Linked DNA regions of Homo sapiens. The protein of the gene in region 1 interacts with the protein of each later gene in a pairwise test. Each region holds a gene or a part of one and is shown in the gene's direction. Other genes may lie near its edges.

Region 1 (3,821 bases):
AAATAATGTTCTTTTGCAGCTAGTTTGCTGGTGTTTTATTCTCTAGAGACCAACAGCTAGGGCTTAGTGTTTATCTGATGAGTTTTAGTTTATGCATTCAGTTTTGCTCCAGGATATAAATAGTGAAATGTTGAATTAAGTTATGGAGTGGTGTGAAATTCAGCATGCTAAGGCAATCAAACAGAAGTCTTCTGAGCCATTTGAGAAGCAGCTTGATGTCCTTGTTCTTAGAACAGGGCTGTCCAATCTTTAGACTTTCTTGGGCCACATTGGAAGAAGGCCATACATAAAATACACTAACCCTAATGATAGCTGATGCACTAAAAAATAAAATTGCAAAAAAATCTCATAACGTTTTAAGAAAGTTTACAAATTTGTGTTGGGCTGCATTCAAAGCTGACCTGGGCTGGGGCCATGAGTTGGACAAGCTTGTTCTAGAATATTTTCGGCAAATTTTGGTAAGGGGGAAAATAAGTAATAGTAATAATAGTAGTAAATAGTAATAATTGCTGTCAAAGCAGCTACCATTTATCGAGTTCTAGTAACTGTGAGGCACCATGCCAACTACTTACATATTATTTCACCCAATTTTCCGAACATCCTGTCAAGTAGGTGGTGGGAATTTTCGTTTTATAGATCAGGCTTGGAAACGTGACTTGTCCGATTGAGTCAGGATCTGAACATAGGTCTTTTAACTCTAAAGCTTATACCCAAACACTGGGTTCTGTGAAATTTCAAAAGCATATGATAGGCTGACTGCAGTGGCTCATACCTGTAATCCCAGAACTTTGGGAGGCTGAGATGGAAGAATCCCTTGAGCCCAGGAGTTCGAGACCAGCTTGGGCAACATAGTGAAACCTCGTCTCTACAAAAACAAAACAAAATGTGATCAAAATCATACTTCATGATTTTTGGTTTCTAAAGATACTCTCTAAATTTCTCTCCCCAATTTAAAAACGAAAGCAGAGCACTGTTGGAAGGTTCAAATAGGTAGATTAATTTAGGTTGGTTTTTTTGTTTTGGTATAGTTGAAGATAATTCAGGTTATTGTTTACATGTTTACATTTATCAAAATAATACATGTACATAGATTGAAAGACCAAATAGGCTGAGCGTGGTGGCTCAAGCTTTTGGAGGCCAGCACTTTTGGAGGCTGAGGCGGGTGGATCCCCTGAGGTCAGGAGTTTGAGACCAGCCTGACCAACGTGGTAAAATCCCGTCTGTACTAAAAGTACAAAAATCAGCTGTGCGTGGTGGTGGGCGCCTGTAATCCCAGCTACTTGGGAGGCTGAGGCAGGAGAATCGCTTGAACCTGGAAGGCGATGGGTGCAGTGAGCCAAGATCGCGCCACTATACTCCAGCCTGGGCAACAAGAGCGAAACTCTGTCTCAAAACAAACAAACAAAAAAAACAACCAAATAGTGCTTTAAACCTTAGAATAAAAAAAAATATATCAATCTCTTGTCCACCCCCTTTTTAAACTATAGACAACTATTTTCACCTTTTTTTGGCACTTTTTAAAATAGTATTTTGGCTGGGTGTGGTGGCTCACACCTGTAATTCCAGCACTTTGGGATGCCAAGGCAAGTGGATCATGAGGTCAGGAGATCGAGACCATCCTGGCTGACACGGTGAAACCCTGTCTCTACTAAAAATACAAAAAAATTACCTGGGTGTGGTGGCGGTTGCCTGTAGTCCCAGCTATTCGGGAGGCTGAGGCAGGAGAATGGCATGAACCTGGGAGGTGGAGGTTGCAGAGAGCTGAGATCGCGCCACTGCCCTCCAGCCTGGGTGACAGAGTGAGACTCCGTCTCAAAAAAAAAAAATAGTATTTTATCTTTGTGGATATGGTAAAATTGCTATTGATTTACATGTAATCTTTTGACTTTTGATCATAGAAGACTTTTGCTGCCTTGTAAAACTCTTCAATCCACCAGTGAGTCAAAAACTTGTAGGAAATTTGTCAGTTACTTTTTTTCCTCCCCTGTAGTACTCGGTCCTGCTCCAGTCTGGACTGTTTTTTTTTTTTTTTTTCCTCCCCAGTCCTTCTGCACAGCTGCCTTTCTGGGAATTTCCTCCCCTGCCAGTTGAAGACCGAATCCTACTCTGTCGCCCAGGCTGGAGTGCAGTGACATGATCATTCATGGCTTACTGTGCTTCTACCTTCTGGGCTCAAGCGATCTTCCTACCTCAGTCTCCCGAGTAGGTGGGACTACAGGCGTGCACCACTATGTGCAGCTAACTTCTTATTTTTTTGTTGAGAATGTCTCACTGTGTTGCTGGGTTGGTCTCAAACTCCTGGGCTGAAGCGATTCTCCCACCTTGGCTTCCCAAAGTGTTGGGATTATGCTCAAGAGCCACCATGCCTGGCCTTGATTAATGATTTGACTGGGTGTGGAATTCTGGCTTGGAAATAATTTTCCGTTAGCATTTTGAAGGTATTGCTCTAGATGTCCTGTGTCTTGCTGATTGTTGATCCTTTATATATGCTTTTTTCTTTGGGAAGTTTTTAGGTTCTCTTCTTTGTCCTTGATGTTATGAAATTTCAGTCATCCTACCTATGGAGAATCTTTTAAAATTCATCATGCTGGACAGTCATTGGATCTTTTGAATCTAGAAATGTGTTATCCTGTTGCAGGAAATGGTTTTATAGTATTATTTCTCTGCTCTTTTCTCTGTGGTTTATTTATGAAATTCTCCTATAAGCAGAATTTTTTTTTTTGAGACGGAGTCTCGCTGTGATGCCCAGGCTGGAATGCAGTGGTGGGATCTCAGCTCACTGCAACCTCCGTCTCCCGGGTTCAAGTGATTCTCCTGCCTCAGCCTGCTCAGTAGCTGGGACTACAAGTGCGTGCCACCATGCCTGGCTAATTTTTGTATTTTTAGTAGAGATGGGGTTTCACCATACTGGCCAGGCTCGTCTTGAACTCCTGACCCCAAGTGATCTACCCACCTCAGCCTCCCAAAGTGCTGTGATTAACAGGTATGAGCCACTGTGCCCAGCCAGCAGAATATTTTATATTCCAGGCTCATCCTCTAATTTTTTTCCATCTCTTGGTCTTTTTTTTTTTTTTTTTTAGCTCTTCATTTCAGAGAGATTTCTTCCATCTTGATCTTTCCAACTCTTGTATTGAATTTTTAATTTTGGTTATTATTTTTAATTGAGAGCTCTGAATATTTCTTTTTATTCTTGTTTTTTTTTTTTTTGAGATGGAGTCTCACTCCAGTCACCCAGGCTGGAGTGCAGTGGCACTATCTCGGCTCACTGCAAGCTCCGCCTCCCGGGTTCACGCCATTCTCCTGCCTCAGCCTCCTGAGTAGCTGGGACTACAGGAGCCTGCCACCACGCCCAACTAATTTTTGTATTTTTAGTAGAGACGGGGTTTCACCATGTTGGCCAGGCTGGTCTCGAACTCCTGACCTCAAGTGATCTACTCTCCTCGGCCTCCTAAAGTGTTGGGATTATAGGCGTGAGCCACTGTGGCCAGCTGTAAAGTAATATTTTTAAAGTTTTCTTTTGTACCCAGCATTGTCTCTGATTCTTGAGGTTTTTTTCTTGAAAATTTTATTTTCTTTAATCTCTATCTTTTATGGTCTAGATTTTTCTCCAGTGTCTGATTGTGGTACTGTGAAATGTTTATTTTGTCTTTGACCTCATTTCCTGCCTTACAACTCCTATTTAATACAATCCTTAAAAATCTCCAAAATGATGTCTTTTTGTATGCTAATGATTGATTGATGGCCTGCAGACTCCCTTCAGGATGGGAGCTGGTCATCTGAAACACCTATGCGACTTTAGAGGGTTGGAACTTTCATGTCTG
Region 2 (3,821 bases), on another chromosome or scaffold:
TCTGGTGATGCCACTGCTGATGATCTCTCCTCTGGTGATCCCACCTCTAGTGATCCCATCCCAGGTGAACCGGTCCCTGTTGAACCCATTTCTGGTGATTGTGCCGCTGATGATATAGCCTCTAGTGAAATAACTTCTGTTGATCTGGCTTCTGGAGCACCAGCTTCCACTGATCCAGCCTCTGATGATCTGGCCTCTGGTGATCTATCCTCTAGTGAACTGGCCTCTGATGATCTGGCCACTGGTGAACTGGCCTCTGATGAGCTGACTTCTGAATCAACCTTTGATCGTACCTTTGAACCAAAGTCTGTACCAGTTTGTGAACCAGTTCCTGAAATTGACAATATAGAACCAAGTAGCAATAAAGATGATGATTTTCTTGAAAAAAATGGAGCTGATGAAAAATTAGAGCAAATTCAGAGTAAAGACTCATTGGATGAGAAAAATAAAGCTGATAATAATATTGATGCTAATGAAGAAACTCTAGAAACAGATGATACAACTATTTGTTCAGATCGACCTCCTGAAAATGAAAAGAAGGTAGAGGAAGATATTATCACAGAGCTTGCTCTTGGAGAAGATGCTATATCTAGCAGTATGGAAATTGACCAAGGTGAAAAGAATGAAGATGAAACTTCTGCAGATCTTGTAGAAACGATTAATGAAAATGTTATTGAAGATAACAAAAGTGAGAATATCTTAGAAAATACAGACTCTATGGAGACAGATGAAATCATTCCTATTTTGGAAAAGCTTGCACCTTCTGAGGATGAACTTACTTGCTTTTCTAAAACATCTCTCCTTCCAATCGATGAGACAAATCCAGATTTGGAAGAGAAAATGGAAAGTTCTTTTGGTTCACCATCTAAACAAGAAAGTAGTGAGAGTTTGCCAAAAGAAGCCTTTCTGGTCCTCTCTGATGAAGAGGATATTTCGGGTGAAAAAGATGAGTCTGAAGTTATATCGCAAAATGAAACGTGCTCTCCAGGTTAGCATATAACTTAAATGTTAAAGATTTTTTATTGACTTTGATGAACTGTTTAATAAAACATTATCATAATGTTTTAAATTTATTTTAGCTGCAGAGAAAGTTGAGAATGGTGATGACTCTATAGAAAGATGTCTTAACTTCATAGAATTCAGAATTAGTGTGTGTACTCTGTGAGTAGCATTGTACTAAATACTAAGAAGGGAGATAAAATAAGTAGAAAATATGCCCTTATAGTCTGGAAATAGAGATGAAGTAGAGCACCATAACACTGAGATAACAGTTTAAGTTAGTACATAATTGACTAGAGTTGTAGCAGTTCTTTCTTGCTATCACTTAGCGAACAAATAACTTAGAACTAAAAGCCTAATAGTTTAATCTATTTGCTTCAAGTGTAACAAATTATATTTTCAATTAATATTCCCAATGAAATCCTGTTCTTTAATATTCTTTGTCCAGGAATGACAGCACCATTGTTGTAAGCCAGAAACCTTAAAGCTTGATTATCCATTTGATAAAGACTTTACCCATTTGCTCCCTCAGCCCTTTTGATTCTACCCAACCTATTCTCTTCCTCATTTTCTGAATGAGCTCCCTGTAACCCAATTCTCTTATTTGATATTGTCCGTCTATGTCTTAGATCTCTGTTACTTTTAGGTTGATTTCAAACTCCTTATGTAAAAGGTACATTAACTTTATGATTTGTTCAGTACCTATCTCTCCCATCTCTTTTATTTTATTTATTATTCCTAGAGAAAAAGAATGAGAAAAATTCTACCTTCTTTTATGGTCAAACTGAAAAACATTATTCCTCTATGAAACTTTCTAAGCCTGTGGAAGACTGAGAAAAGCATGAATACCTTTCTTTTCCCATTATATCACATTCTTTTAGATTTAGACATCTCTGAGAGAAGTGACCTTGCTAGCATAAAACACCATCTAATTTCTTCAAAGAAAAAAAAATGGAGGCAGGTCTAAGAGACAGAGACAACTTTTTTCCCCAATATATCATACCAGCTTTTGGAGGTAGAGATTTTTTTCTTATTAAAAAATGGCTTTTTTTTTTTTTTTGGCCAGGTAAGGTGGCTCACACCTATAATCCTAGGACTTTGGGAGGCTGAGGCAGGCAGATTGCTTGAGCTCAGGAGTTCGAGACCAGCCTGGGCAACATGGTGAGACCCCGTCTCTACAAAAGTACAAAAATTAGCCAGGCGTGGTGGCACTTGTCTGTAGTCCAGGGTACTTGAGGGCCTGAGGTAGGGGGATCACTTGAACCTGGGTGGTCGAGGCTGCAGTGAGCCGAGATCGCGCCACTACTCCAGCCTGGGTGACAAAGTAAGACCCTGCCTCAAAAAAAAAAAAAAAAAAAAAAAAAAAGGATGGCTTTTTATTTTCAAAGAGCATTCAACTAAACCTATATAAAGAGACAGGCCAGGCCCTTCTTGGTTCTAGAGATTTGAAGATAGTATTTGCCCTCAGGATACACACAAGAATTAAATCATAGGCCATTAAATACAAGACTGTGAGTACAGTGATAATGTTAAATTGGCATTCTGGGAGTGCAGATTAAGGTAACTTTATTAGAGCACCAGATGTATTAGGGATGTCTTGCCCCTTTTAATATCTGTATAACAGAGGTTTTTTTTGTTTGCTTGTTTTTGTTTTGTGAGACAGAGTCTTGCTCTGTTGCCCAGGCTGGAGTACAGTGGCACAATCATAGCTCACTGCAGCTTCCACTTTACTGGCTTAGGTGATCCTCCCACCTAAGCCCCCAGAGTACCTGGGAATACAGACATGTGCCACCACACTTGGCAAAATTTTAATTTTTTTGTAGAGACAGGGTCTTGCTATATTGGCTCTGCTGTAACATAGGGTTTTAATGAGTCTAATTCTTTTTTTTTTTTTCCGAGATGGAGTCTCGCTCTGTTGCCCCGGCTGGAGTGCAGTGGCACGATCTTGGCTCACTGCAACCTCCGCCTCCCGGGTTCAAGTGATTCTCCTCCCCACTCCGCCTCCTGCGTAGCTGGGATTATAGGTGCGCGACACCACGCCTGGCTAATTTTTGTATTTTTAGTAGAGTCGGGGTTTCATCATGTTGGTCAGGCTGGTCTCAAACTCCTGACCTCGTGATCCTCCTGCCTCAGCCTCCCAAAGTGCTGGGATTACAAGCGTGAGCCACCGCGTCTGGCCAAGTCTAATTCCTTTTAATGGCAGCTCCATCCTACTTGCTGAGGCCAGAAACTTTGGAACCATTTTTATTTTTTCTTTCACACCCCATAATTAGTCCATCAGGAAATTCTGTTGGTACTACTATCATAATAGATCTAGAGTCCAATTCACAACTGTTATTACTCCTGCTGCGAGTCACCATCATCAGGCCAAAACGGTGCCTGGCACACAGTAAGTGCCCAGTAAATATTTGTAAAGTGAATGAATAATCAATAATGTAAGAGAAGCATATCATGGAGGACCTTGGTTATAATGCTAAAGCTTTATGATGGCGCTGGAATGCCAATAAAGAACTTCAAGCAGAGAGGAGAATGAAATTTACATTTTGGAAAGGTAATAGGTGACAGTGTTGAGAATGAATTTCATCCATTTCCTATAAGTGTCTATACAGAGTGTGGCACTAGGCCAAGTCCATAAAAAAGCCTTATAAGTCCTTTAAAAAAAAAAAGTCTGTATAAGAAAGTTAAAAAAGCAAATTGCAGCTTATGATTTAATGAGTACCTTTATGTCAGAATCTTGATATTGGAGGGCATCCCACACAAGGCAGTTAAGTGCTGAGAGATGAATATTAAGCCATCCATGTTGCATACTTTGAAAATTCAAA

Evidence for each region.
Region 2: the proteins of PLEKHB2 (region 1) and ATF7IP interact in a two-hybrid assay, tested with the Homo sapiens proteins (one large-scale study listed by IntAct).

Annotation. Positions count from the first base shown.
Region 1 is NC_000002.12:131,108,301-131,112,121, forward strand, and holds part of PLEKHB2 (pleckstrin homology domain-containing family B member 2), read left to right. Parts: intron 1-3,821. UniProt on the Homo sapiens protein: Involved in retrograde transport of recycling endosomes.
Region 2 is NC_000012.12:14,424,486-14,428,306, forward strand, and holds part of ATF7IP (activating transcription factor 7-interacting protein 1), read left to right. Parts: coding exon 1-988; intron 989-3,821. UniProt on the Homo sapiens protein: Recruiter that couples transcriptional factors to general transcription apparatus and thereby modulates transcription regulation and chromatin formation. Can both act as an activator or a repressor depending on the context.